Linked DNA regions of Homo sapiens: all the other regions are linked to region 4. The links come from fine-mapping of genetic effects on gene expression. A gene starts in region 4. Each other region holds a variant in brackets. All regions are shown on one strand. Distances are between the middles of the regions.

Region 1 (4,000 bases), 62 kb before region 4:
AAAACACCCCAGAATCAGGCTCCTTCTGAAGCTTCTGTTCACTGGCACCTCTAGCTGGCGGAGTCTTGGAATCTAAGATGTACTTGCACAGTTCTTCCACAACAGATATCCTGGTTCCCAAGCTCCTCTCTCCCCGAACTAAAACCTGAAATCTTGAATTTTGTCCACTTTCCAGCTGGATGCTACTTAATATTAAGTGCCCATTTGCTGACTTCTGGAATCTGGTCTGACCTGACTTTTAGGAGCCTTAAGAGTTTTTCTTATTCAGCTAACCTGACTGCAAGGGAAAGATTGCAGTCTAATCCCTTTGGTCCCTGCAGTATGTCTCCTGGTCAGTGGGAGTCCAGTTATTGCTTTTGTGGGATAACAGGAGTCAAAGAATAAATTGGACTCCTTAACATCAAACCATTTGGAAATACCCTCCCATAAGTACAGTCTCTCTGGATTCCTCAGGCTTATGGTAGCTAAACCTTGAAGGACCCCTCGATTGAAAATCTCGGTGATGTGGTGAATTCAAGTAGTCCCAGACCTTCCATCAGAAAGGCTCCCATTCTTGAGGCAGCTCTGCAACCAAAACAGTCAATCTGTCTTCTCAACCAGAGACGATGGGTCATTTAGCTAGTTTAGTATTCTAGACATTGGCTCCAAATCAAGCTGACTTCTGGTGTGGGAAATGGAAGGAAGGAAATGGCCCTCCTCTCACTGTTAATCTCCTGATATTCTATTTAGGCTGACTGTCATTTTTATTTCCATGATGACTCTATCTGGTCTTAAATCAACTAGGATCTCACAGATGATTTGGTGCTTTTGACGTCTAAGGGAGAAGAGAGAAGAAAATCCTATAGTTTTCAGCCGATTGAAGGGGAGAGAAATCTGGTGCTTTTTTTAAAAGGAAAAATAATCATTAAAATAATTAATCCACTAAGAATCAGAGCACAGTCCAAACCTGTCATTGACTTAATAACCTGGCGATTGCTTTCAGAAATAGCTTTGTGAGGTCATTTTTTGAGACTAGTGATGAAAAGCTTCACAGTCACAGAGTAACATTTGGCAATAAATTAGTTCAGCTTGTTTCCACATGGTCCCCAAATCTTCATTTGTTCCATCATGAAAAACAAACTTTCATTTGCTTGAAACAGAGAAAAATAAATGATTTTCCTTTACACATTTTGATAATTTAATTTTTAGCATGTTCATATGTTAATCTTTAAAAAACACCACTAACTACTCTTTTACCTGTTTGGTTTTAGTCCCTATAAAGAAAAAGATGCTTTTTTTAAAAAATTTTTTTTTTGCTTTTAGCAGAAAAAGCTACATTTTCTCAAGGCAACGGCAACAAAGGCTCAAAGAAAATACATGTGACTTGACACATTTCTGAGAGGGGTTGGGGAAAAGTCCTTCCTTGGACTTCCGTAAATATGAAGTGGGTTACGACATCTCAGATGATGATAATCTTAGGATATCGCTTGTTGGAGGCAAGGGTATAGAATAGGTGACTAAATCCTTTTTTCATTCCTATGACACTAGATTAAAGGCAAAAATTGGTCACGTTTAATTATGGTATGAAATAAATGTGACTTATGAGTTACATAGCCCTACTCCAAAAGCATTAAGTTAGGTAGGAAAAAACAAAACAGAGCACCCAATCAGAGTTGTGGGAAAGGTTACCTGGATTACTAAAGTTTGCAAAAATGTCCTAATCTAGGTTTCCTCTGATTAATTAGTAGAGTACAGTGGTGGGTGATGGTGGTAGTAGTAATAATGACAATTATAGCTAATATTATTGAACACATTATGTGATAGGCCCTGTTGTTAGAGTTTTACATATATGAACTCATTTAATCCTGTGAGGTATGTAATATTATCTTTATTTTAAAGATTAGAAAATTGAGGCTTAAAAAGCTTATTTATATAACTTGGCAAAGGTTACATAAGGTTCCTCTAGTGTGGTCTTAAAAAAGAAAAAAGAGAAAGGTTATATAAGGTTACATAATAGCTTTCTGATACTAAAGACTCACCCTAACTTTATACTATAGCTATACCAGATTGCCATTGTTAGGATACTGGTCTATCATGTACTAGTTATATGACCTTGGGCAGGTTACT[T/C]AACCTTGCTAAGTATCAGATTTTGCTTCTGTAAATGGATTGTTCCTACATTCAAATGAGATAATCCATGCAAAACACTTAACATAGTATTTGGCAAGAGTAAATGTTTAATAAATTTTAGCTGCTTTTAAAAGATGAGGAATTAGGCCAGGCGTGATAGCTCATGCCTGTAATCCCAGCACTTTGGGAGGCAGAGGTGCGTGGATCATGAGCTCAGGAGTTAGAGACAAGCCTAGACAACATGGTGAAGCCCTGTCTCTACTAAAAATACAAAATTTAGCTGGGCGTGGTGGTGTATGCCTGTAATCCCAGCTACTTGGGAGGCTGAGGCAGGAGAATTGCTTGAACCTAGGAGGTGGAGGTTGCAGTAAGCTGAGATCACGCTACTACACTCCAGCCTGGGCAACAGAGCGAGACTCCATCTCAAAAGAAAAAAAAAAGGTGAGGAATTAGCAAAGAATCCCAAATAATTAATTAAAGGTTTTATTTTGTTAGTTTGTTTTCTTGATGTGTGTGTGTGTGTGTGTGTGTGTGTTTTCCCCTTCCTTATATTACATTTTTAGTATTACCTCTTAGGAATCTCTCAGCAATGAAGGTGGTAATAGAAATTATGACAATTATATTGACAAAGCTTTGCATTTTTCAAAGTACTTATATATGAATTATTTAATGTGATCTTCAAAACTGTCTTACATATTTGCCAGAAAAGTGAGGCTTAGAGAAGTTAAGTAATACTAGGTTGCCTGTACAGTTGATAGCCAGAGTTGAATCCAGATCTGAAGTTATGAGAGTCAGTTTAATTTAGATCCTTTAATGTTGAGAGCTGGTTTATTGCTTCTGGTAATGTTTGGTTGATCATGCGTTCTCTAAGTATATAAGAAAATAAACTGTACATATTGATATTTTTATTTCTTCCTTTCCATAGTTACAACTTGCATTTATTTTTTCCTAAGCCTTACAGGCAGGAGTTAAGGTGCAGTATGAAATAGAAACTTACTTTACCTTTTTGTATCTTTGTTAACATTTCTCATGTTATTCCCTCTGTATGTCCTCCTCCAAATTATTGGATGTAGCCTATGCCTGTCCTGCCCAGCTGTCAGAACCAATTCAAATGTTATCTCTGCTGTAAAAAATTCTCTCTGATCTTCTCAGCTAGAGAAGAACAGGGCTAAACCTGAGTAATTTTGTCCCCTAGGAGACATTTTGGAATGTTTGGAGACATTTTTGGTTGTCATAACTGAGTGGGAGGATGTTAGAGGGATCTAGTGGGTAAAGGTCAGGAGGGATCTTAATGATCCTACAGTGCACAGGGCAGCCCCTACAATGAAGAATGATCTGGCCCCAAATGTCAGCAATGCTGATTCAGAAACACTTCTAAACTAAAGACTCATGACATTATGGCACATATTCTTTTCTACTTAAAAAAAAACCTATTTATGAATCTATATTATCATGGACTATAAATTACTTGTGGACGGGGATTCTGTCTTAATTATCATTTATCACTAATATTCAAGATTAGTCAGCAAATCCCCCTTTATATCTGCATTCTCTCATTAAATACCTTAGATTAATTTGATCATTATTCAATCATTAACTATAAAAGGTGACAGATATTAGATAAAAGGATTTAAAGTTCCCTTAAGCCACTTGATAAATGAGAAAAATAATATATCTAGGACCTAATTTTTAGTTTATAAAACTCAGGTATTGGTCATTTTTTTTTCTTTTTGAGATAGAGTCTCACTCCGGTTGCCCAGGCTGGAGTGCAGTGGTGCAATCTTGGTTCACTGCAGCCTCGTCCTCCCAGGCTCAGGTGATCCTCCTGCCTCAGCCTCCCAAGTAGCTGGGACTACAAGTGCATGACACCACACCTGTCTATTTTTTTTTTTTT
Region 2 (5,030 bases), 100 kb before region 4:
GAGGCAGCCTTCAGCATGGCTGAGTGTGTACACTCACCATTCCTGGATGAGTTGCGTGCTTGGAAACAGGAGCACAAAGAGGGTGCTTGGCTTAGGGAACTTGGCTCGACATTTCTATCTCTTTGAGTTATGTCCACCATTACACCTGCGTCCTTTGGAGCCAAACTTACACATTACCACCATTACTCTTTCATAGCACTGAAATTGTACTCATCTATGAAATCTGCCTTTCTCTTTCTTACATTGCCACAGAACAGAATCTCTAGGAGTGTGTGGGGTATTGAAGAGGGGGAAGAATACATTCTGGGTCACTGCTTGAGAAATTTTTTTATTGTATTTGTTTTCAAGTGATTCTGGTAACCAAAGTATTACAGTTACAGGGCAAGCAAACATTTAAGCCAAAAAACAATCATATGGCAAAGGCCTCTGCTTTAATCTACTACATGAGAGGTCATTGTTACTCATTTCCAAAGCTGTTATAGACTTGGAATGTGGAATTGGAGAGGCTTTTCGAATGTAGTTAGTGGTGTTCACAAAAGAACCACTGCCTTTCAACTTGGACCCTAAGAATGAACTTATCACTTCCATTTAGAACTTATATAAGCAAAAATATCTGAAGGCAAATATCAAGCCATGTTTCCACACTCCCAAAGTATCTCATTTGTCATGAGCCATGAGTGTCACTTTTTAAACTCCTTCCCTGAATGCCCAATCAACAGGAAAGAAGCTGCAGAGCAAGGGCAGAAGAGTCTAGACCAGGTGTTGGGAACTATAGCTCACAGACTGGCCACTTGTTTTTGTTTGTTTGTTTGTTTGTTTGTTTTTGAGACAGTCTTACTCTGTCGCCCAGGCTGGAGTGCAATGGCATGATCTCGGCTCACTGCAACCTCCACCTCCCGGGTTCAAGTGATTCTCCTGCCTCAGCCTCCCAGGTAGCTGGGACTCCAGGCACCCACCGTCATGCCTGGCTAATTTTTGTACTTTTAGTAGAGATGGGGTTTCACTATGTTGACCAGGCTGGTCCCAAACTCCTAACCTCAGATGATCTGTCAGCCTCAGCCTCCCAGAGTGCTGGGATTACAGGCATGAGCCACCATGCCTGGCCTGTAAATAAAGTTTTACTGGAACACAGCCATGCTCTTCTGTTTACATCTTGTCTATGGCTGCTTTAGTGCTACAATGGCAGAGTTGGGTAGTTGGGACAGACACCATGTCTGTCTGTTGGTACAGACAACACAAACTCCAAAATATGTACTCTGTGGGTCTTTACTGAAAACTTTGCCGACCCTTGGTCTAGACAGATAGTCAGATGAGCTAACAGTTGGCTAAAGGTCCTCAACTCACAATGCCAAGAGAAGGACTGAGTTGGCTTTAGTTGTTGTCATGCACTGTGTAATTTAAAAAATCTTACAGGCCAGTACAACTAAAACTCCTATTTACCTTACTTTGGAGCAACAATATGGAAAGTAAAACTAGGTCTGAATATATTTTATATGTTACCTGGACTTCTAAAACATTGTTGATTGCTTAAATGTGCATAAGTCAATGTCATTTCTCAAAACGTTTAATAGATGCAACTGTTGGCGGCTGCTAAAGTACTGGTGTTATGCTTGTGCCTGTGTGAAATTCTACAGTGCTGAAAATCTCATGCACTCTAGCTATGAATGCAGGTCTACTTGAAGCAAAACTCTTCAATCTAATTGTTTTCTCAATCTTTGTAAACCAGTTTTAAGAGTCACCAGAAATCTGTAGTTTAAGGCACCAGATACATTTCTTGGCTGAGCCTTGTAGGACCAATATGCTGGACCAATTCGGTAAAATACACCATAAATTATGACTGCTTTATCTGAATGCATGGGACACTTGCTACGATGGCGGGAATTATTACCAGGAGTTTAGGAGCCAGACATGGGTTCTGTATTTTTCATACATTGGTGATCAATTCAAATCTCTTTCCTTTGCAGCCAGGTTTGGTCAGTCTGGCCAGGAGTGCAGATTATGACAAAGAACAAAGCTAAAAGACCTGAGCCATTAAGGTTACAGTCTCAATACCACCGAGTTAAACAACCTATTTAAATGCAAGACTATTGATTGGAATGATATTGGACAGACATGTCAGAAGTGATCTGAAGGCTTTGAAATGTCATTAAGGGTGGGACTTATTGTTGGATGTTGGCTGCAACGAAGGCTACTTCTTTTCTTCTCCTTTAAATATTAGGTAGATCATAAATAACAGATATTATTATGGATTCTACCTGCAAATGTGTCTTAGCAGATATGTGATGAATTGGAGTGGAAAAGCCATTCAGGAAACAGGAGGACTTGGGCTTCCTCTTGAAGCTCAGGTTTGACCACTGGGTTGTTTTCTATGTCTACAGGTTTAAATGGCTGAAATTCAGTTCTCTAATCACAACTCTCCTTTTATCTAGAAGAATTTACAAAGCTTGAGGTAATGACTTTGGGAAGAAATGATGTGTAGTGAAACTATCACTAAGAATTTAAATGTGATTTTTTAGACTTATATGGAGAATAAGACATATAAATCCACTTGATAAATTATAAGATCTATAAAAAAGACATAGGATATTAAATTTTTCTTCAGTTTCAAGTATGATAGAATCATACAGCTGAAGAAAACATCACCATTCTAGATTTTTATTAAAAAATAAACAAACATTAGTCCTACTTTTTGTCTCTAACGCTTCATGAATTTATGTGTCAGCCTTGTGCAGGGGCTGTGCTAATCTCTGCATTGTTCCTATTTTAGTACATGGGCTACTGAAACAAGCAGAGTCCTACTTCTTAAACTTCCTCTTCCTTACACGTAAAAAGCCCACCAGTCAAGGTCTTTTAATTTTGGTGTACACTATCACTGAATGCCATTTATAAATTCTAATTTTAAAGAGACCCTTAATTTTCAAAGGAGGACTTTGATAGCATTAGTTTTCAGAAAAGATGACTTGCAATTCTAACTTAGTACTTGAAAGGTGAGATTTTTATAGGGAGGCTTATAAAAGGTGTCTTAGAAAAAAAATGAGCGCTCTCAAACCTTTCTTTTGGGAGTGAGGTTGTGGGGCTGAAGTGACTTTTTAAAGTGAAGCAACTGACACTACCCGTGGGAGAAGCCACCTATGCGACCTGTGGCCAAACCGCAAATGTATGTTTCTGTGCAACATTCCTGCTAGAGCAGCCGGGCTCTGAGTAAGGTGTAGCTGGCTAGATAATCACTAGGGAGAGGTCCAGGGTGTGGGGAACACTCCAAATCACATTCCATGGAAATATTAGACTGTCAGAGCTTAGGAAGTCCCCGATTGTCCATAGACGCTGAGGTGGGGGAAAGGACTGAAATGAATGCTAGCACATGT[T/C]AGCTTATAAAAGAGCTGCTGACACAAATTGAACATGTGCAATTTTTTAAAAAGGTGGTATCGAATAACAGGCCAACAGCCATCCTTCTCAGCATTTAGACCTCTTTCTTCTCTCCACTTTGGCTCTTTGTTGAGTCACTTCCATCAGGCAAAGTTCCATAGGATAAGCTATGTGAATCTGGTTGTATTTTGTCCAACATTTGTTTCCCTGTGGAGATAATAATCATAGAGAATCTTTTGAGGTCTTACAGAAAAATAAGTCTTAATAATTTCTCCTCAATCTAGGCCACATTTTATCACCTCTCTTTTATACTATGTGGGCACTCTCTAAAGAGAAGAGATGAATATCAAGGAAGAAAAGGCCCTTGAAACGCCATGTCTGTAGCTATGTGATAGCGAATTGTCTGTGTCAGAGCCACTATCCCCACCCCACAGGATCTACATGCTGGCCATGGAAATCAGGTGGGTTTAGTCTGGAGATTCACATGAAGCATTCACTCACCTCCAAGCCTTTCTCTCTGGGGTTGTGTCTTCTTTTCCACGTCGAATGCATATAACAACATAGAAAAATAGCCTTTGATAGTGACTTCTAAAGCTACTACGGAGCCTATGCACTGAGCTTTGTGAAATAAAAAATAGAGTTAAAAATAATCAGGCTCGGTGCAGTGGCTCACACCTATCATCCCAGCACATTGGGAGGCCGAGGCAGGCGAATCATTTGAGGTCAGGAATTCGAGACCAGCCTGGCCAACATGGTGAAAACCCACCTCTGCTAAAAATACAAAAATTAGCCGGGCATGGTGGTGCCTACTCGGGAGGCTGAGACACGAGAATCACTTGAACCCGGGAGGGGGAGGCTGCAGTAAGCTGAGATTGTGCCACTGCACTCCAGCCTGGGCAACAGAGCAAGACTCCATCTCAAAAAAAAAAAAAAAAGTCAAACTTTATTTCCTATCAAAGAACCTCTAACCATATAAGGCTTCTATCACAAGCACCTTTGCCACTGATGCCAATTCTTTCATTGACTGCTCCCAGCAGATAAGATGGCTCGAATGGCAAAGAGAACACAGAATTCATTGCATGGGGCCATATTTCTCAGTCTTAGGGATGAGGCTTCCCTAGTTTTTGCTTCACAGGCATGGTGCTAACAGAATGGTGGAGAAAGCTGTGAGAATGTCTCCACTCCTGCCTGGAAACCTATAGGTCCCCCTACATCCCCAGTAAGGCTGGAGAGTGCTGAGGGCGGGTGGACAGGGGAAGAGGTGACACAGCAGACAGTTTCCTTTGTCCTGGACTTGGCTTTTGTTGTCTACATGACTAGGCGAGTTATTTCTCAGTGAGAGTGAGAACGGGAAAGAGTGTTTGCTCTCTGGGTAGGCGGGGTGAGGAAGGGGGAAGAAACTACTCATGTTTTGGTGACTGTCCTGAGCCACAGTGCACAGGCCACCTCAGGCTTCCCCCAAGACATGCTCCTTAGCTGCCTACCCTTTGTCCTTGGATGTTCCTTCAAGGCTCTCAAAGTGGCAGGGGTCTGCTGCTGGTAGTCATTGCTACTCTTTTCTCTACCCTTTTCCAATTTAAGGAAACCCAAAAAGGAAATCCTCCAAATCACCCAAATCGAGGAAACATGGTCAGTTCTTTTATATCCCCAGTTCTGTGCAAAAC
Region 3 (5,124 bases), 220 kb before region 4:
CCAAAGCTGATAAAAACTTGATGAGGCTTCTAATCCTAGAGTGTGTGTGAGTAGTACTAGGTAATTTTTTTTTCTTTTTTAGAGACAGGGTCTTGCTCTGTTGCCGAGGCTGGAGTGCAATGGTGCAATCATAGCTCACGGCAGCTTGGACTCCTGGACCCAAATTATCCTTCCACCTCAGCCTCCTAAGGTGCTGGGATTACAGGCATGACCCACTGTGCCCCACTGTAATTTTTTTTTAAAGCAAAGTGCCAGACTATAGCTCTCCAGGTGTGTTTATGTCTTGAAAGTCCTGTAATGACTTCAGAAGCTTCTTCACCCATCTCAGGGCTATTGCTGTTTTTCACAGTCCTTGAACCACTTCTTGGGAATTGCCTTCGGGCTCTCAAGTTCATTCATTGTATATAATCAAGGGTGTCTGAGCTTTGTCCTTTAAGGATGAATATTGAAAAAAACAACAATCCACATTGTTTTTATTTTATTTTTTAAGTTTTATTTTATTTTTTTTTTTTGGTAGAGACTGGTTCTCACTATGCTGCCCAGGCTGGTCTCAAACTCCAGGCTTCAAGCAACCCTAATACCTCAGTCAGCCTCCCAAAGTGCTGGGATTACAGGCATGAACTACCGTGCCCAGCCCCACATGGTTTTTAGCAGCTAAAACCCCCTAGGAATTAAACCTTATGAAGGTGGGTGAAATAAGACAGTCAATGCTGGAGTGCATGATTTAGTACTACCTAAGTTGTTTATATCAGAGTTTCCCAGCCTGTGAGAATGGTTTATAGCCATGCCAGCATTTCTCCTAGCCTTTAGGGCAGCCAGGTGGGATCCTGACAGCCTGAGCCATCTGGAAGCAGCTTCCTCCATTTGTTGAAGTGTGATGCACAAATATCATATTCTGTGTATGTCATGACATTGAAAAGGATCAGGAAGTGTTGGTGGCCGGGTGCAGTGGCTCATGCCTGTGAGCACAGCACTTTGGGAGGCCAAGGCAGGAGGATCACCTGAGGTCAGGAGTTGGAGACCAGCTTGGCCAACATGGTGAAACCCCATCTCTACTAAAAATACAAAATAAATTAGCTAGGCATGGTGGCACACGCTTGTTGTCCCAGCTACTCAGGAGGCTGAGGCGGGAAAATCACTTGAACCTGGGAGGTAGAGGTTGCAGTGAACCGAGGTTGTGCCACTGCACTGCAGCCTGGGTGACAGAGTGAGACTCCATCTAAAAAAAAATTAAATTAAAATTAAAATTAAAAAGGAAGTGTTGGGATGTGCATTCCAGCTGCTCTGTCATTTTCACTAGTAGTTTCTTTTGCTTAGAGATAACATCTGCCTTCAGCCACCCCAGCAAGGACTTTTGTTGAAATGTTCTCCCTAAAACATTCTCTTTGCTTATTTCTTTTCCTCACTGTTAATGATAATTATAATGAACCTTTTGTCTTTTATTTTTTTTCTGTAAGGTGATTTTTGTGTGTGTGCCTGTTTCTGCCTCTTCCCATTTTCTCAAGACTCTGATATAAACCACAGAGTTTCTTTTTTGCTAATTTCCTTTACTTAGTACTTAATCTAAAGGTATAGCACCTGTAGACTAGATGTTATGGGAGGTTCTGGTTACCTGTACACCTTGCATTAATGTATGGGTATGAAGTTCAACATTTCATTTCAACTGAAAGACAGTATAGAGTGCTGATTAAGAATGTGGGCCTGGAGTTAGACTGGGTTCAAATCCTCGTTCAGGATCAGTTATTAGTTGTGTGACTTTGAGCCAGGTACTGACCCTCTCCATGCTGCTTCATCTACAAAATAGGATCAACAATAGTACTTCATAGAGTTGAGGAATAAATAAGTTAATACATATAATGCACTGAGAATATAGTCTGGGCCAGGAACGGTGACTCATGCCTGTAATCCCAGCACTTTGGGAGACTGAGGCAGGAAGCTTGCTCTTTAGGCCAGGAGTTCAAGACCAGCCTAACCAACATAGTGAGACCCTCTCTCTCTCTCTCTCTCTCTCTCTCTCTATATATATATATATATATATATATATGTATATATATATATATATATATATATGTATATATATATATATATATATATATATATGTATATATATATATATATATATATATATATAATTTTTTTTTTTTTGAGGCAGAGTTTTGCTGTGTCGCCCAGGCTGGAGTGCAGTGCTGTGATCTTGGCTTACTGCAACCTCCTTCTCCCGGGTTCAAGTGATTCTCCTGCATCACCGTCCGGAGTAGCTGGGATTACAGACGGGTGCCACCATGCCCGGCTAATTTTTGTATATTTAGTAGAGACAGGGTTTTACCATGTTGGTCAGGCTGGCCTCGAACTCCTGACCTCAGGTGATCCACCCACCTCGGCCTCCCAAAGTGTTGGGATTACAGGTGTGAGCCACTGCACCCAGCTTTTTGTGTTTGTTTAAAATCAAGTTCTAGATCCCTGAGTTTGTTGATTTCCTCACTTTTTAAATTTTTCTCTCTTTTT[C/CT]TTTTTTTTTTTTTAGAGACAGGGTCTCACTCTGTCACCCAGGCTGGAATGCAGTGGCGCTATCACAACTCACTGAAGCCTCGACCTCCCACCTTAGCCCAGCAGCTGGGACTATAGGCATGCACCACCACACCTGGCTAATTTTTTTTTGTTTTTTGGAGAGTTGACATTTTGCCATGTTGCCCAACCTCGTCCCTAATTGCTGGACTCAAGGTATCCGCCTGCCTCAGCCTCCCAAAGTGCTGGGATTATAGGTGTGAGCCACCTCACCTGGCCTTCCTCACTTTTTAAAAAAGTAAATTTATTTAAAGAAAAATGGTGACAAAAATATTAAGTCAATAATAGCACAAATGGTAAAGAAATATTCAAAAATCATAAAAGTGGTATGCGAATGGCTACAGTTTATGAGACAGTTTTTCTAAGGCTACCAGGTCTTCTTATTTAGCTAGATTACTTGCTCTTATATTTTTGCTTCTATAATTTTTTTATTTTTCATTTTAATTTACTTTTTTTTTTTTTTTGAGACAGGGTCTCACTCTGTCACCCAGGCTGAGTACAGCCTCAACTTCCTGGATTCAAGTGATCCTCCTGCCTCTGCCTCCCGAGTAGCTGAGACTACAGCTGTGCACCACCATACCCAGCTAATATTTTTATTTTTTGTAAAGACAAGGTCTCACTATGTTACCCAGGCTGGTCTCAAACTGCTGGCCTCAAGTGATCCTCCTGCCTTGGCCTCCCTGCTATAATTTTTAAAAATAAATTTTATTTTAGAATAGTTTTAGATTTACAGAAAAATTATGAAGTTGGTACAGAGAGTTCTCATATACTGCACACTCACTTTCCTCTTAACATCTTATGTTAGTAGGATATGTTTGTCACAATTAATGAACCAAATCTGTTACATGATTACTAACTAAAGTCCATGCTTTAGTCAGATGTTCTTAGTTTTTCTCTAATGTCCTGTTTCACTTCCAGCGTCCCATCCAGAATCCCACATTGCATGTAGTCATCATGCCTCCTTCAGCTCCCCTTGGCTAAGAGTTTCTCAGATTGTCCTTGTTTTTGATGACTCTGACAGTTTTGAGGAGCACTGGTTAGGTATTTTGTGGAAGATTCCTCAACTGGAATTTGTCTGGTATTTTTCTCATGATGACACTGGAGTTATGGGTTTTTGGGAGGAAGACCACAGAGATAAACTGCCCTTCTCATCACATCATCTCAAAGGTACATGTGGTTGACTTGACTTCTCACTGCCCCCTAGACTTCTCTAATATTCCTCCTGGAGACTCTGAAGTTTGATGATGGGCGAAAAGGCAGATTTTTATTTTCTGTTCTAATCTTATTGAAATCTTCCAGTTTAATTATGTTCATGATTCTTGGTCAAACCTACTTCCTAAGTTGCAGCTTTTTCTTATGCTTTGCTTTATGAAGAAGCTCGTTCAATTCAGTTTTCAAATGTTTACACCAGGAGGCTTAATGGTGGCCTCAAAGGTGTATCAGGTTGTGAGTGGACAACCTGTGCTTTGTTACAAGTGGCTTTTCATTCTGGAAAAGAAAATCCCCCCTTTGCTTAATGTGATCTATTATGTTTCCTAAGCATGGAACTGAAGTCATCTGAATTGCATGTAGGTGCCTAACCTGAGAGAGTGGTGGCAGCAATCAGTCAGCGGAAAGACCTTAGATCTTTCTCCTCCTGGGTCTCCCCAGTGCTCTCTCTGGTGCCAGTGGCTTTCAGGGTGCACAGAGCCCCCACGCTTGAGGCCCAAATGTCTGGTGTGAATAGGACTGCTCTGTTGTAAAATTTCAGTCTTCCATCCCAGCCACACAGTTGCTAACTGCTAACTCCCATCTCAAGCACACCTGCCTTTTTTTTTTTTTTTTTTTGAGACAGGGTGTTGCTATGTTGCCCAGGCTTGTCTCCTGGGCTCAAGTTATTCACCCATCCAAAGTGCTTGGATTACAGATGTGAGCCACCGTGCCTGGCCACAGACACCTGCTTTTGACCATGGGCCTTTGTACTCTGTACTCAGACAGAGTGAAACATAGACACAGTGACCGAACCTGGCAAGCAGCCACATCACATTGGTGAGGTGGGTCTGTCCACCCCTCTTAGAGTGCAAAGCAGAGCAAGCATTTACGCTTTTTGTGAGATGGAGTCTCTCTCTCTCTGTCACCCAGGCTGGAGTGCAATAGCGCGATCTCAGCTCACTGCAGCTTCTGCCTCCTGAGTTCAAGCGATTCTCCTGCCTCAGCCTCCTGAGTAGCTGGGATTTCAGGCGCCCGCCACCATGCTCAGATAATTTTTGTATTTTTTGTACAGACGGGATTTCACTATGTTGGCCAGGCTGGTCTCGAACTCCTGACCTCAAGTGATTCGCCCACCTTGGCCTCCCAAAGTGCTGGGATTACAGGCATGAGCCACCGTGCCCAGCCGTATTAACCTTAATTTCAGAAGAGAAATTAGAAGGCCTTTTTTTTTTTTTTTTCCTCGTGATCTAGCCAAGGCAGAGGCTTAGCAAACCCAGCTAATTCTGTGAAGTGAAGGAAGCTTGGGAAAAAATCTCACTCCCCAGCGTGGAGCTCACTTAAACCAGCTCAGGCCTTTGATTCATGGCTAAA
Region 4 (4,847 bases):
ATCAGCCAACACACACTGTGCAAATATTTTAGTTGTGATAAAACCAATGGAGGCAAGCAAATAAGCATCATTAAGCTGTGGCTAGTTAGCAACCAACATTCATTTTGATTGTGGGAGTGACACATTTATATCTCACACTTTGTTTTTCTGTATCCACACCCATTTTCAGCCATTTCTATTCAGTGTCAAAAAAGACAAGAAAAATTAGACTCAATTTTATTTTTACTGGCCTGGACAACACCAGAGGCACTCAATAAAATGCTTCTCGAGTAAACTTTTTAAAAATTAATTTTTACTTTTGCTTAACACAAATGCAATTACTGAAAAGATAAAATACCACCATCTTATAAGAGGGCCTAAATTTGCACAATAATGGCAAAACTTGATACAGTTTTATCTCAAACCAGCAAAGTTTAGATGTCAGCTCAGTAATTTCAATTAGCACATTCTGGATACATCCTTTCTAACCTGTACAAATACACACTGTCAAAGGCAAATTAAGCCTTGCAAACAGTATTTATTTGCCTCACATTTATGTCACATGATAATCTGTGTTTGGATATCAGACAGCCAAGACAATCAAGAATTCCAGGAAATGTCAAAGAAAACTAATGACTACAGAGGTTTCCACTGTGAAAACAATGTCCTGTTTTTGGATGATCACATCTGCTAACCCTCTATTTTTTTTTTTTTTTTAATCAAGAGGGGATAGATAACTCATTCTTAAACTTATATTGGGAATACTTCTAATAAAAGAATAATATAATAGATAGATTCAAGTTCCCATAAAAATGATGCTTTTCTTTGTAATTCCTGTGGGTAGAAGAAAGGAGAAATGGGGTTGGATTACAAACATTGATCAAGAGGCTCTGAGTACCCTCATTTTTCCTATTTTTATATCTTTTATGATGAAATGACTTAAAGCAATACTCTCCCCTCTTGAAAACTAATAAAGTGAACATGCTTATTTATCTTACTTATTCTTTATACAAATATATTCTCTTCTGCATTCAGAAATTAATATTTAGAACACTTCAGGCATAAAAGGAATCCAGATCTTTGATAATTGGTTAAACTCTCCGATTTAGGACAACAGCAACAAATATTTTCTGATTATATTGTTGCAAAAATAAAAGTATCCATGGTTTTGTTAAAGAACAAGAACAAAGTAACACATTTAATGAAAACAGGAGGAAGCCTGGAATCCACCGTGATAAAACTTAGTTGCAATATGAACGCTGCTAGAGGAAGGGCTGGCCAGAACACTTCCTCATCTTAAACCAAGCCAAAAATAAATGGGCGGCTCCAAGTCCCTTTGATTTTGTTAAATGTATATTTCCAGTGTAAACTGGCGTTGTTTAAGTTAACAAAGTTTTCCCAAAGGGCCGGTGGGAAAGAATGAGAGTCCTGCAAATGCAACCTGAGAAAATGTGTTCCTCGCACGGAAATGGAAGAGCTGTGTTGAGATACCAGGGACACACGCAGGGCATCTGCGCGAGGTGACATTAGGCTGCCCTTAATGAGTTTTCTGCTTCTGATAACAGGGTGTCACTTTTTTCTTTTCTTTTAACTGTAAAAGGATCCTGGGGTGAAAATGAGTGAATTGCCCCCACACTCCTAGATTCCTTCCGGGAGAAGAGGGCGGACGCAGGCTGGGGAGGCGGGATCGGGACCCGGAGGTCCCAGGAACGGGTGGCTGAGGTCAAGGCCGAAGACCTGGGCGCCCACTCCCAGTGCCGGGTGCCCGGGAGAGGAAGACTGGGCGGACCCCCGCGCTTCCGGATGAGGCGGACTTAGGTCAATGCGGGAAACATTGCATGTCACCTCTTCCCACTCGGAGAGGCCGGGTGTCTTCCTGAGAGCTGGCAGGAAAGCGGCCGAGGCGCAGAGGCGCCCGGAGCCAGCCGCCCTGGCCGCGTCCCCACCGGGCTGCGGTGGCTGCGGGGCGGCCCTTACCTGGTTCCTGCGGTACCAGTCGCCCGAGAGGGAGCCGTTGCCGGCGCCTGGTGCCCCGTACGTGAAATTCAGTGACAGCTCGTCCAGGGCGGCCGAGGCGGAGTCCCCGGGGCCCGCGGGCGCCACCGCTGCCATGAGGTCTCGCTCCCGGCGCTCGGGCTCCGGCTCGGGCTGCGGCCGCCTCCCCGCCCTGTTGCACCGCGAGGAGGCCGCGCCGCAGCCACTTCCTGCTCGGTGCCCGGGCGAGGCGGGCGCGCCGAGGCCACCTGGCTCCCGCCCCCGCGCGGCCGTAGGTGCTCCCAGCCTGGCCGGGCGCTGCCTCCTCTCCTCCTCCGGTGCGAGGTGTCCTCGGGGAGCCCGGCGGTCTGCGGCCTCCCGGGGCCGTCCAGCTCGCACCGCGCCCTCCTTCCGCTGGGCCAGTGTCTGCATCCTCGGGGCCGCACTGCCCAAGGGGGCAATCCCCGCGGCCGTCCGCAACGGGTCCCCGCGCCTGTCGGGGCCAGAATCAGATCATCTCCGTTGTAAACATTTGTCCAAGTCAATGGAAGAGGAGGAGACACTGACTAACCCAAAGCAGCTATCATCTCCCATCTCTACCTGGCAATTCCAGTCCTCTATCACATATGTAGTGTTTCTCACCGATATTTTAAAAATTGATTGCATATGAAAAAGTCATGAGTTCCCAGAAATATTGTAAGCAATATGAGAAAAAAAGATCCGAGCGATTGAATCTCAGTGCCAGTGCTTGATAGATCCTTAGTAAATATTCCTTGAATGAGGAATGTGGTAGCCATAGGACCCCAGTGTGCGATGACTGGATTGGGTTTGCTTCAGATGGGATCAGGTGGAGTTGCTGAAAAGTTGCCAGCTACTGTATATATGAATTTAGGATGAAAGATAAATGTTGTTATTAATCTTAAGAACTCTAACGAGATGTTCTGGTTTTACCTGTATTCAAATTCTAATGTGTGACCACAAATGATCTGTAGGGTATTTCTCACTTTAAAAAAACCATGATTCTATACTGTTGCCTGAAGGCTGATAGTTGCCTTCTTTTGTTTACACAATGCTGAGGTTTTTCTTAGATAATGTGCTTTGACTTCCATGAGTTCATGAAAGAGAGACCTTCAAGAAAAGAGAATTGCTGCCTAGAAGGGAGCAGGGACAGTTTTCAGTGTTTCTTAGGGGAAATGTGCAAATGAGAGAAAAGAGTGAGAAAAAGTCATTTCACATACAGAAAAAACAAGACATGTCGTCTCAGAAATTGTGTAGTTTCTTGCTTAAGCACTCGAGATGTTCAGTGAACAGCTAACAATTGTAGGTAACTATTCCCAATTTTAAGAGGCTGATTTACTTCAAATAAATATCTGAAGGAAAAAGGTCTCTATTTGTTATATTACATTTTATTTTATTTTTTGAGACAGGGTCTTGCTCTGTTGCCCAGGCTGGAGTGCAGTGGTGTGATCTTGACTCACTTTAGCCTCATATTCCTGGGCCCAAGTGATCCTCCCACCTGGGACTACATACAGGTGCATGCCACCATGCCCAGCTAATTTTTTTTTTTTTTAGATAGAGTCTCTCTCTCTTGCCCAGGCTGCAGTGCAGTGGCACAATCTCAGCTCACTGCAACCTCTGCCTCCTGGGTTCAAACAATGCTCCTGCCTCAGCCTCCTGAGTAGCTGGGACTACACGTGCACACCACCAAGCCCGGCTAATTTTTGTATTTTTAGTAGAGACAGGGTTTCACGGTGTTGGTCAGGCTGGCCTCAAGCTCCTAACCTCCAGTGATCCCCCTGTCTTGGCCTCCCAAAGTGCTGGGATTACAGGTGTGAGCCACCACACCTGGCCCTGGCTAATATTTTTCTATTTTTTTGTAGGGACAGGGTCTCGCAATTTTTCCTAGGCTGGTCTAGAACTCCTGGCCTCAAACAGTTGTCCCACCTCGGCCTCCCAAAGTGGTGGGATTACAGGTGTGAGCTGCCATGCCTTGTCTGATAAGTTTTCTATAACATCACATTCATTGATATTGGTGACTTCATTAATGCTTCTTTCTCTTCACATGCTTTAGGGTGCAAGTAACAGAGTATCCAAATAAAAGTGGCTTAAACAATAATTATCTGCTATCTCCAGAGGAATGTGTCTCTATGTGGTTCTATTATGTCGTCACTTCCACCTTTCTGCTCTGCTATCCCTGAGGTACTGGTCTTGTCCATTGAGGGAGGAAAGCCTTTTCCAGAATCCTCCTGGCATCCTTTCACCTCAGATCCCATTGGCTGGGACTGGGTCACATGCCCATGTTCTACCAGCAAGGGAGGCTGGGAAAGTGATTCTTGGGTATTTCCAACCTAGTGAGAGGTAAGCTCTACCAACCAGGATGAGTGGGAATGCCATGGGGTTATGGGGGAGGGGAACCAGTCAACCCTGGTACAACCACTCTAGTATTTTTCTATCAGCCAGATTGTAAGTAGTTGTACAGTTGCTAACAAGCAAAATACTAAATGGATTGTGTTACTTTCTGGTTTAAAATGCCTTGAAGCCTCCCTATTGCCATAATGAAGTCCACACTTTTTTTTTTTTTGAGACAGAGTCTTGCTCTGTCACCCAGGCTGGAGTGCAGTGGCACAATCTCGGCTCACTGCAAGCTCCGCCTCCCGAGTTCACGCCATTCTCCTGCCTCAGCCTCCTGAGTAGCTGGGACTACAGATGCCCGCCACCACGCCCAGCTAATTTTTTGTATTTTTAGTAGAGTCTGGGTTTCATCGTGTTAGCCAGGATGGTCTCGATCTCCTGACCTCATGATCCACCCACCTCAGCCTCCCAAAGTGCTGGGATTACAGGCGTGAGTCACCACGCCCAGACAATTTTTTTTTTTTTTTAATTTTTTGTAGAGA
Region 5 (4,000 bases), 96 kb before region 4:
TGGAGATGCCCAGTGATCTGTTGGTCTGGCCACATGGCGACTCAAGTGCCAAAGCACACTCTAGCAGCTGAAGTGCTACCTTAGCTCTACTTCCCACTGCCAAGCCCCCTCTCATCTTCTTCTGGTCTTCCAAAGGTAAACAAGGATGCATCATCTACTTTGATGAACTTTGCTTCTCTCCGTCTTGGTCTCAATGATTTCTTCTGTAAAGTTCCAAAGCCTTCATAGAGTTTTTGTTAAGATATCTTTAAGTTATATGTTGCCTGGAATTAATTTTTTATGTGTGTGGTGTTATCCTTGTTAGCCAGCCAACCAATATTTATTGAACGTCTGCTGTGCGTCAGCCACTGCTCTAGGTCTTGGAGAAATGACAAGACAGAGACCTATCCTCAAGGAGCTTTCTCATTCTTCACCTTATCTCCTTACCTAGGGAATGAACTTCTTACAGGAAGAAGCCATGTCCAGTTCTAATGAATATTTGTTGAATGAATGAAACTTTCTGAAGCACACTCCAGGTTATTACATACTTCCTTATAATCATTTTAATGTTTTCATGTTATTTTAAACGATATACCATAATATTCATTTCTTTAAGGGCATTTCAAGTTGGTTCTACATCTTTTTTCTCTTTTTTTTTTTTCAATTTTTTTCTTCAGTAAAGCAGCAATGTACTTCTTCGTACAGGTGTATCTTGGAGATATGTGGGTTTGGTTCCAGACCACATCACAATAAAGCTAATCTCTCAATAAAGCAAGTCACACTAAATTTTTGGTTTCCCAGTGTACATAAAAGTTATGTTTACACTGTACTGTAGTTTATCAAATGTGCAATAGCATTATGTCTAAAAAAAGTACATACCTTAATTAAAATACTTTATTGCTAAAAATGCTAATGATCATCTGAGCTTGCAGTGAGTCCTATCTTTTTGCTAGTTGTAGGGACTTTCCTCAGTGTTGATGGTTGTTGATTGATCAGGGTGGTGGTTGCTGAAGGTTGGGGTGGCTGTGGCAACTTCTTAAGATAAGACAATAATGAAGTTTGCCACATCGATTAACTCTTTCATGAAAGATTTCTTTGTAGCATGCCATACTGTTTGACAGCATTTGACTTGCAGTAGAAATTCTTTCAAAATCTCTACTTAATCTTCTCGAACACAGCTGCTGCTTTATCAACTAAGTTACTGAAATATTCTAAATCCTTTGTTTTCATTTCAACAATGTTCCTAGCATCTTCACCAAGAGTAGTTTCCACTTTAAGAAACCACTTTGTTTGCTCTTTTATAAAAAGCAACTCCTCATCCATTAAAGTTTGATTATGAAGTTGTAGCAGTTCAGTCACATCTTCAGGCTCCACTTCTAATTCTAGTTCTTTTCCTATTTCCATCACATCTGCAGTTACTGCCTTCTCTGAAGTCTTGAACCTTTCAAAATCATCCAGGAGGGTTAGAATAGACTTCTTCCAAACTCCTGTTAATGTGCATATTTTAGCCTCCTCCCATGAATCACAAAAGTTCTTAATGACATCAAGAAAATCAGAAAGTTTTCAATTTACTTTGCTAAGATCAATCGGCAGAATCATTATCTATGACAGCTACAGCCTTACAAAATGTATTTCTTAAATAATAAGACTTGAAAGTCAAAATTACTCATTGATCCATGGGCTGCAGAATGAATGTTGTGTTAGCAGGCATGAAAACAACATTCATCTCTTTGTACATCTCCACAAGAGCTCTTGGGTGATCAGGTTCATTGACAATAAGCAGTAATATTTTGAAAGGACTCTTTTTCCTGGTCAGTAGGTCTCAACAGTGGGTTTAAAATATTCAGTAACCCATGCCATAAACAGATGTGTTGTTATCCAGGCTTAGTTGTTTCATTTAAAGAGTGCAGGCAGAGTAGATTTAGCATAATTCTTAAGGGCCCTATGGTTTTCAGAATGGTTAATAAGCATTGGCTTCAAATTAAAGTGCCCAGCTGCATTATTCCTCACAAGAGAGTCAGCCTGTCCTTTGAAGCTTTGAAATCAGACATTTACTTCTCCTCTTTAGCCATGAAAGTCCTAGATGGTGTCTTCTTCTAATAGAAGGTGGTTTTGTCTACATTGAAAATCTGTATTTTA[G/C]TGTAGCCACCTTCATCAATGATCTTAGCTAGATGTTCCAGACAACTTGCTGCAGCTTTTACATCAGCACTTGCTGCTTCATCTTGTATTTATGATATGAGGATGGCTTCTTTCCTTAAACCTCATCAACCAACCTCTGATAGCTTCAAACTTTTCTTCTGTCATTTCTTCACCTCTCTTAGCCTTCATAGAATGAAAAGAGTTACGGCCTTGCTCTGGTTTAGGTGTTGGCTTAAGGGAATGTTGTGACTGGTTTGATCTGTCCAGACCACTCAAACTTCCTTTATATCAGTGATAAGGTTGCTTTACTTTCTTATCATTCATGTGATCACTGGAGTAGCATGTTAAATTTCCTTCAAAAAGTTTTTTTCTTTTTCTTTTTCTTTTCTTTTTTTTTTTTTTGAGACAGAGTTTCACTCTTGTTGCCCAGGCTGGAGTGCAATGGTGCCATCTTGGCTCACTGCAACCTCCGCCTCCTGGGTTCAAGCAATTCTCCTGCCTCAGCTTCCCAAGTAGCTGCGATTACAGTCATGTGCCACCATGCCCGGCTAATTTTGTATTTTTAGTAGAGACAGGGTTTCTCTGTGTTGGTCAGGCTGGTCTCGAACTCCCAACCTCAGGTGATCCGCCCGCCTCAGCCTCCCAAAGTGCTGGGATTACAGACATGAGACACTGCACCCGGCCCAAAAACTTTTTTCTTTTGCATTCACAACTTGGCTAAATGTTTGGTGCAGAAGGTCTACCTTTCAGCCTATCTTGGCTTTTGACATGCCTTCCTCACTAAGCTTAATCGTTTCTAGCTTTTGACTTAAGGGAAGGATTGTGGGATGCTTCCTTTCATCTGAACAGTTACAGGCCATTGTAGGGTTATTATATTTAATAATATAGTCAGATTTCAATATTATTGTGTCTCAGGGAATAAGGAGGCCCAAGGGGAAGGAGAGAGATGTGGGAACAGCTGGTCAGTGGAGCATCAGAACACATACATTTATTGATAAGTTGGCAGTCTTACACAGGTGCAGTTTGTGGTGTCTCAAAACAATTATGGTAGTAGCATTAAAGATCACTGATCACAGATCACCGTAACAGATATAATAATAACAAACTTGAAATAATGCAAGAATTACTAAAACGTGACACAGAGATATGAAGTGAGGACATGCTGTTGGAAAAATGATTCCAACAGACTTGTTCGATGCAGGATTATCACAAACCTTCAATTTGTAAAAAATGCAATATCTGCAGAGCACAATAAAATGCGGTATGCCTCATCAACACATTTTCCCAGGTATTTTATGAATTTTTGTGGGGTTTTTTAGAAGTGGAATTTCTGTTTCCAGAGATTTTCTTGGTCCTCCAAGAAAATCTTTATTTATTTATTTTTAACTTTTATTTATTTAGAGATAAGGTCCTGCTCCGTCACCCAGGCTGGAGAGTAGTGGCGTGATTATAGCTTACTGTAACCTTGAACTTCTAGGTCAAACAATCCTACCGCCTCAGCCTCCTGAGTAGCTGGGACTAAAGGTGTGCACTGCCACACCTGGCTATTTTTTCCCAATTTAGAAACGTTGTAGTAAAATATACATAACATAAAATTTACCATCTCGATCTTTTGTTTTCAGTGTATAGTTCAGTAGTGATAAGTAGGTTCATACTGTTTTGCAACCAATTTCCAGAACTTTTTCATCTTGCAAAACTAAAATTCTATTCCCATTATACAACTCATTTCCTCCTCCCCGCAGCCCTCATTCTACTTTTGTTTCCATAAATCTCACTACTCTAGATATCGCATATAAGTGGAATCATAGAATATTTTTATTTTTGTGACTGGCTTATTTCACTTACCATAATGTTCTCAAGGTTCATCTATGTTGTGGCATGT
Region 6 (5,124 bases), 110 kb before region 4:
CACAGTTGTGTGCATGCCAGCACCGACAAAGCCCCCATGTCCCTTTGCTGAGCAGTTTTCAAGCAGGGCTGTTGTCCTTGCTGCTCTGACATGGTCTCCTTGCTATTGTTTTCATCTTTATCCTTCAGACCTCAGCTGAGATAAATCTTCAAGCTCTTCCCCCACCGCCTGAGCGAGCCTATGACTCATGAAGCCCCATGCTTGAGAACAAACAGGCTGTCTCCTCTTCCCCGCCTCTGCCCTCTGTGACCCAGTGCTCTTTCTCCAGCAATGATGAACCTTTATTGCAGCGACAGGGCAGGGTTTGGTCCTGGGATGGTGACATTATTAAAAACAGATTTAGCAATGCTCCAAGTAGTTAGTCCGCCTGCTCTGTAATGGTTTATCATAGTCATAAAGCTGACTGTTGGGGTCAGCTGATCTCTGCTTTTAGACACGACCACACCTACGTCATTCCAATGAGATGGAATTATCTTTTATTTGTTGTTATTTTTTAAAGGCCTCCAGAGAGAGCTTAGAGCTCCCCCTCCTTCAGAAACCTACTCTGGCGTTACAATGTTGCTGGGGCCATGTCATTGATCTGTGTGTGTGCATGTGTGTGTGTGTGTGCATGCATGTCATGTGTACACGCTGGGTTTCTACAGTGATTTCTGCCCCCACCACTTGCTCTCTATCCGCCCTTCTTCAGGCACAGGGTCTGAGACAATCACAGCAGAGGAGCCTGCAGACAGCAGCGCAGGTGGGAGCTCATGGCGTGGGAAGAGGCTACACATTTCGGTGCCTGGATTCCAATCTACCTCCTTCACTGACTTGCTGTGACCCAAGGCAAAGCTGATTAGTCTCCCTGAGCCTCAGTTCCCTCAAGTGTGAAAGTCATAATAACTGAATTTTCAGTGCCACCAGGATTGGAGGTAATATATGCAAAGTGCCTCGTCCATAGTAGGTGCCCCATAAATACCTGCTATTATTGGGGATAGAAAGAAAGTGCCTGTGGGTGGCAATGGGAACATTCTGACTTGAGCCTCTCCTGAGAACAGAATGTGGTCTGTGTGGGCATCCATCAGTCAGGGGTGAGTCCTCCTGGGAAGCCTCCACTGCTCACTGCATGGGGACCCGAGACTGCCTGAGCTGGGGTGGTGCTGGCCCCAGGGCCATTTGCACCCCTACACGTCCAGCTGACTGGGCGGAGCATCCCGTCCCCTGGCTGTGGAGGACATGGTGCAGGTCCGTGTGTTCTGCGGGGTGTGATGCACGTTGCCTGACTTCATGAAAAGCAACCTGTCCCTAGGCTGTTGGTTTCCATGGCAGCGCAGGGAAGAGCAGCCAAGCAAACAGGCAGCTAGGCTTAAAAAGAAAAGTAGCATGATTTGGGAACCTAGTGACTGTCGTAGTCAGGAGTATGCAGAATTCAGAGATTTGTTTATGTAACAAATATTTATTGGGTCTCCCCCACGTACCAGGCACCCAGGATACATCAGCGAGCATAACAGATCAAGATTCCTGTTCTTGAGGGGCTCACTTTGTGGCAGGTGGGGATGGGGAGGCAGACAATGATCAATAAACATAATAAAAAATTATTCATTATTCTAGGAGGTGATCTTTGCTACAGAGAGAAAGAAAGCAGGGCAACAGGACTAAGGGTACTGGGTGGAGGTGGGGTGGGTTGCAAGATTATAAATAAGGAGGTCAGGGCTGACCTCCTCAAGAAGGTGACATTTGGGCAAAAACTTAAGCTGAGGGACTTACCCTGTGCAAAGGCCCTGAGGCAGGAGTGTGCCCGGTGTGTTCAGTGAACAGGGAGGAAGCAGTGAAGCTGGAGAGTAGGGAAGGATGGAGCAAGGAGGAGGCCTTCTGGGCAGGGAGGTCATGGAGGTTGGATCACGTCTAGTCTTTTGACTGGGGCTTTTCTACTGAATGATCAGCTAGGGGGCTGTGAGTGATCATCACTGAGAAGTGACGGTGGTGGTAGTGGAGCTGGAGAGGAGTCCAGGGCAAATCCTGTCCCATAGATAGTGGCAATTGAATAGCAGGAACCAGATGAGCATGTAGATGACTGTAACGCAACGTGGAAGACACTGAGTTGCATCCAAGAACGTAAAGGGGATTTGAAGGTGGGAAGGAGCACCTCTGGCTGATAAGGATCATAAAACTGGCCAGGCATAGTAGCTCACACCTGTAATCCCAGCACCTTGGGAGGCCAA[GGCAGGT/G]GCAGGTGGATTGCTTGAGCCCAAGAGTTTGAGACCAGCCTGGGAAACATGGCAAAACCCCATCTCTACAAAAAAATACTAAGATTAGCAGAACACGGTGGCCTTCACCTGTGGTCTCAGCTGCTTGGGAGGCTGAAGCGGGAGGATCGGTTGAGCCCAGGAGGTTGAGGCTGGAGTGAGCCGAGATTGTGACACCGTACTCCAGCCTGGGTGACAGGGCCAGATCTTGTTTCAAGAAGAAAAATTATAAAACTCTTTATCCGTATTAGAGATGGGCTTTGAAGGAGGGCTGGACTCCAGTGGAGTGCAGGTGAGCAGATGGTGAGGCCAGGAGCAGTAGCAGGGGAAATGCATGCTGGGGGTAGGATCAGATCTTTCTCTCTCTCCAGGACTCACTGCCCCCACCAGCATGCATGGGAATCTGAGATGCAGACAATGGCTCAGACCAGTGTGTGGGCTGGCGTGGTGTTTCAGGTGGGAGGACCTGACATAAGGGTGGCTGCTGGGAGCCTGGGAAAAAGGGGAAGCGTGTGTTGTATGGGACCTATCTCATGGTGGTCAGGGGAGCACAGGGGTGCCGTGAACAGAGGTAGTTTGGTGGCGACTGGAGAAAAGATGGAGGGTAAATGTGGGGAGTTTGCCTTTGTTTGCACTGAGATTAGGATGTCTCACAGGCCATGGTCAAGGGGGTGGAAAATGCCAGACAAACTGTGTGGGATGCTCGGCTTTTTATTGATCTGCACTGATGTCCTCGTTTGCTGAGGTGCTTACAGAATCCATGGGAAGTCTGCAGGATTGGGCTTGGAAAAGGGGAAGGAACCAAGTGAAACCAAATGGCCAGATGTACGGCCAAGGTCAGGTTTCTGGCAAATGCTGGGTGGCATCCTGGCATCATTACAACTGGAGGTTAGGAGCCACCACTGCAGGCAACGAAAGAATCCATTCTAAACTGCCCAGTGCTCTAGCCCCAGTGCCCTGGAACAGAGCATCATCTGCCAGGGGTGGGGGAGAGGGAAATCTTGGCTTTCAGCTTTTATAGTGAGGTGCGGGGTGGCTCTGCTTCCCAGCAAGGTTTGCACCATGGCAGATTCTCCGAACAGAGCAGAGCGTCAGCCTCTGGGAGCAAAGGAGATGAAAGTCCTTGTATGAGTTTGCTACATCCGCTGTAGTAAAGTACCATCAACTGGGGGACTTAACAGAAATTTATTGTCTCACAGTCTGGAGCCTAGATGTCCAAAATCAAGGTGTTGGTAGGGTTGGTTCCTTTTGAGGTCTGTGAAGAAGATTCTGTTTCATGCCTCTCTGCTGGCTTCAGGTGGTCACAGTTGTCCCTTGGGCTTGTTGATGGTGTCTCACTGTGTCTTCGCCTTGGCTTCACTCAGTGTGTCTCTGTGAGCATGTTTCCCCTTTTTCTATGGACACCAGCTGAACTGGTCAGGGCTCAGTCCCTAATGGCCTAATTTTTAACTTGCTTACCTCTGTAAAGACTCTATTTCCAAATAATGTCACATTCTGAGGTAGTGGGGGTTAGGACTTTAATGTTTATTTTGGGTGGGGGCCCCAATTCAATCCACAAGAGGCCCCCGATAGCAGTGTCAGTTTAGCTTTTTTTGTGACTTCACTTCCTGTCAAGAATGGGATGGTTTTCATCCTGACAGTTTTAGAGATATATTTATGTAACTGTCAATTTTTATATGATGGAAATCAAATAAATCTGCTTTGCTCTTTCAATCATTCATAAAAATCAGTTAACAGGCTTTGGTTTGCTCTCAGCAGTTTCTGTTGATAGATGGTAGATCCAACACTCTGCTGTGCTCGCTCAGAGTGTTCCTGGCCATGGGATATGTTTTTTCCATTATTAACTTTATTGTTGTGGTGCAAAAATCAGTAGGGAAAGTGAGGCTGCTCCCATTGTTTTTGGACCGAAAAAACATGTTCAGCACGTGGGCTGTGTGCAGGGGCCAAACACCAATTTGCAGCACAGACCCGTCACTCCTGGCCCACCCAGGAGTTGCTTGCTCCTCAGACGGAACTCTCCCCGAACATGTTTGATGTCTCCGTGGTTTTAAGCAAAAGCTTAGAGTCACACACAGCTCCGTTAGGCTCGATGTCTGGGACACCTCTGCTCTTCTGTTGGATGAGCTTTTCCTGTCTTGTCACCTGTGTCTTTGCTGTCAATTCTGTTCTCTCCTGAACATTATTCTGAAGGAGGATGTGAAATCTTTGTGCCAGGCCTAAACCCCCTTTTTTTGTTGTGTTTTGTTTTTTGAGACAGGGTCTTGCTTTGTTGCCCAGGCTGGAGTGCAGTGGCGAGATCATAGCTCTCTGCAGCCTCGACCTCCCAGGCTTAAGGGATCCTCCCACCTCAGCCTCCTAAGCAGCTGGGACCACAGGCACACATGTGCCACCATACCTGGCTAATTAATTTTTTTTTTTTTTTTTTTTGCACAAACGGGGTCTCCCCGTGTTGCCCAGGCTGGTCTGGAACTCCTTGGCTCAAGTGATCCTCCTACCTTGGCCTCCCAAAGTGCTGGGATTACAGGCATGAGCCACTGTGCCTGGCCAGGGCCCCTCTCTCCACAGTCCTTTTATATTTGTGTCACCTACTCTTTCTCCTACATCTTCCTTCTGAGGCCCAGCAGGCCGGACATGATTGGCTCTACTTTGTGAGAGAACAGGGCCGTGGAAAGCAGAGAAACACCCTGCAACCTTGTCTCCCTCTAAAAAGGGCTAGAAAAAGGAGACTTGGGAGTTAACCCAACAGACCCCCAAACTAAACTTCTGTGGAACACAAGGAAGAGAGTTAGAAACACAGAAGAAGAAAGCAAATCGTCACTTGCGGTGTTCTTTGGAGAGGGGCTTTCTGTGCAGACGTCCAGTGAAGCCCCCAGGCCGTGGGAAGCCCGCAGAGCAGAGT

Which allele goes with the higher level. Alleles are on the strand shown, and positions count from the first base shown. SD is a standard deviation of normalised expression in the study named. Not every link is listed here.
For the expression in ovary of the gene that starts at base 2,189 in region 4, C is the low allele of the variant in region 2 and T is the other (small effect, 0.30 SD a copy in GTEx).
As copies of G replace GGCAGGT in region 6, the expression in cerebral cortex of the gene that starts at base 2,189 in region 4 goes down (small effect, 0.33 SD a copy in GTEx).

What was found. PIP is the estimated chance that this variant, and not a neighbour inherited with it, causes the effect. A credible set is the group of variants that fine-mapping cannot tell apart.
Region 1: its variant is the best candidate, but not a certain one, in a credible set for the expression of NIPAL2 in tibial nerve (GTEx, PIP 0.72).
Region 2: its variant is the best candidate, but not a certain one, in a credible set for the expression of NIPAL2 in ovary (GTEx, PIP 0.78).
Region 3: its variant is the best candidate, but not a certain one, in a credible set for the expression of NIPAL2 in iPS cells (iPSCORE, PIP 0.75).
Region 5: its variant is the best candidate, but not a certain one, in a credible set for the expression of NIPAL2 in whole blood (TOPMed, PIP 0.64).
Region 6: its variant is the best candidate, but not a certain one, in a credible set for the expression of NIPAL2 in cerebral cortex (GTEx, PIP 0.62).

What each region holds. Positions count from the first base shown.
Region 1 is chr8:98,230,727-98,234,726 of GRCh38, forward strand. All of the region lies in intron 4 of NIPAL2 (NIPA like domain containing 2), which reads right to left. The region is part of intron 2 of NIPAL2-AS1 (NIPAL2 antisense RNA 1); the gene reads left to right. Among named protein-coding and RNA genes, the nearest start is that of NIPAL2-AS1, 56 kb to the left of the region's middle. The variant T/C (reference allele first, on the strand shown) is at 2,107.
Region 2 is chr8:98,189,518-98,194,547 of GRCh38, forward strand. NIPAL2 (NIPA like domain containing 2) reads right to left here. Exons shown (of 11, transcript NM_001321635.2): 11 at 309-3,573. The coding sequence ends at 3,461. The region is part of intron 2 of NIPAL2-AS1 (NIPAL2 antisense RNA 1); the gene reads left to right. It also overlaps the pseudogene RNU6-914P. Among named protein-coding and RNA genes, the nearest start is that of NIPAL2-AS1, 16 kb to the left of the region's middle. The variant T/C (reference allele first, on the strand shown) is at 3,366.
Region 3 is chr8:98,071,416-98,076,539 of GRCh38, forward strand. The region is part of intron 1 of ERICH5 (glutamate rich 5); the gene reads left to right. Among named protein-coding and RNA genes, the nearest start is that of ERICH5, 9.4 kb to the left of the region's middle. The variant C/CT (reference allele first, on the strand shown) is at 2,506.
Region 4 is chr8:98,292,047-98,296,893 of GRCh38, forward strand. NIPAL2 (NIPA like domain containing 2) reads right to left here and starts at 2,189. Exons shown (of 11, transcript NM_001321635.2): 1 at 1,957-2,189. The coding sequence starts at 2,091. All of the region lies in intron 5 of LOC105375659 (a long non-coding RNA gene), which reads left to right. RefSeq lists a silencer at 1,709-2,428.
Region 5 is chr8:98,196,454-98,200,453 of GRCh38, forward strand. The region is part of intron 8 of NIPAL2 (NIPA like domain containing 2); the gene reads right to left. All of the region lies in intron 2 of NIPAL2-AS1 (NIPAL2 antisense RNA 1), which reads left to right. Among named protein-coding and RNA genes, the nearest start is that of NIPAL2-AS1, 22 kb to the left of the region's middle. The variant G/C (reference allele first, on the strand shown) is at 2,119.
Region 6 is chr8:98,179,134-98,184,257 of GRCh38, forward strand. It overlaps NIPAL2-AS1 (NIPAL2 antisense RNA 1), which reads left to right. Exons shown (of 3, transcript XR_928444.3): 2 at 689-911. Among named protein-coding and RNA genes, the nearest start is that of NIPAL2-AS1, 5.2 kb to the left of the region's middle. The variant GGCAGGT/G (reference allele first, on the strand shown) is at 2,202.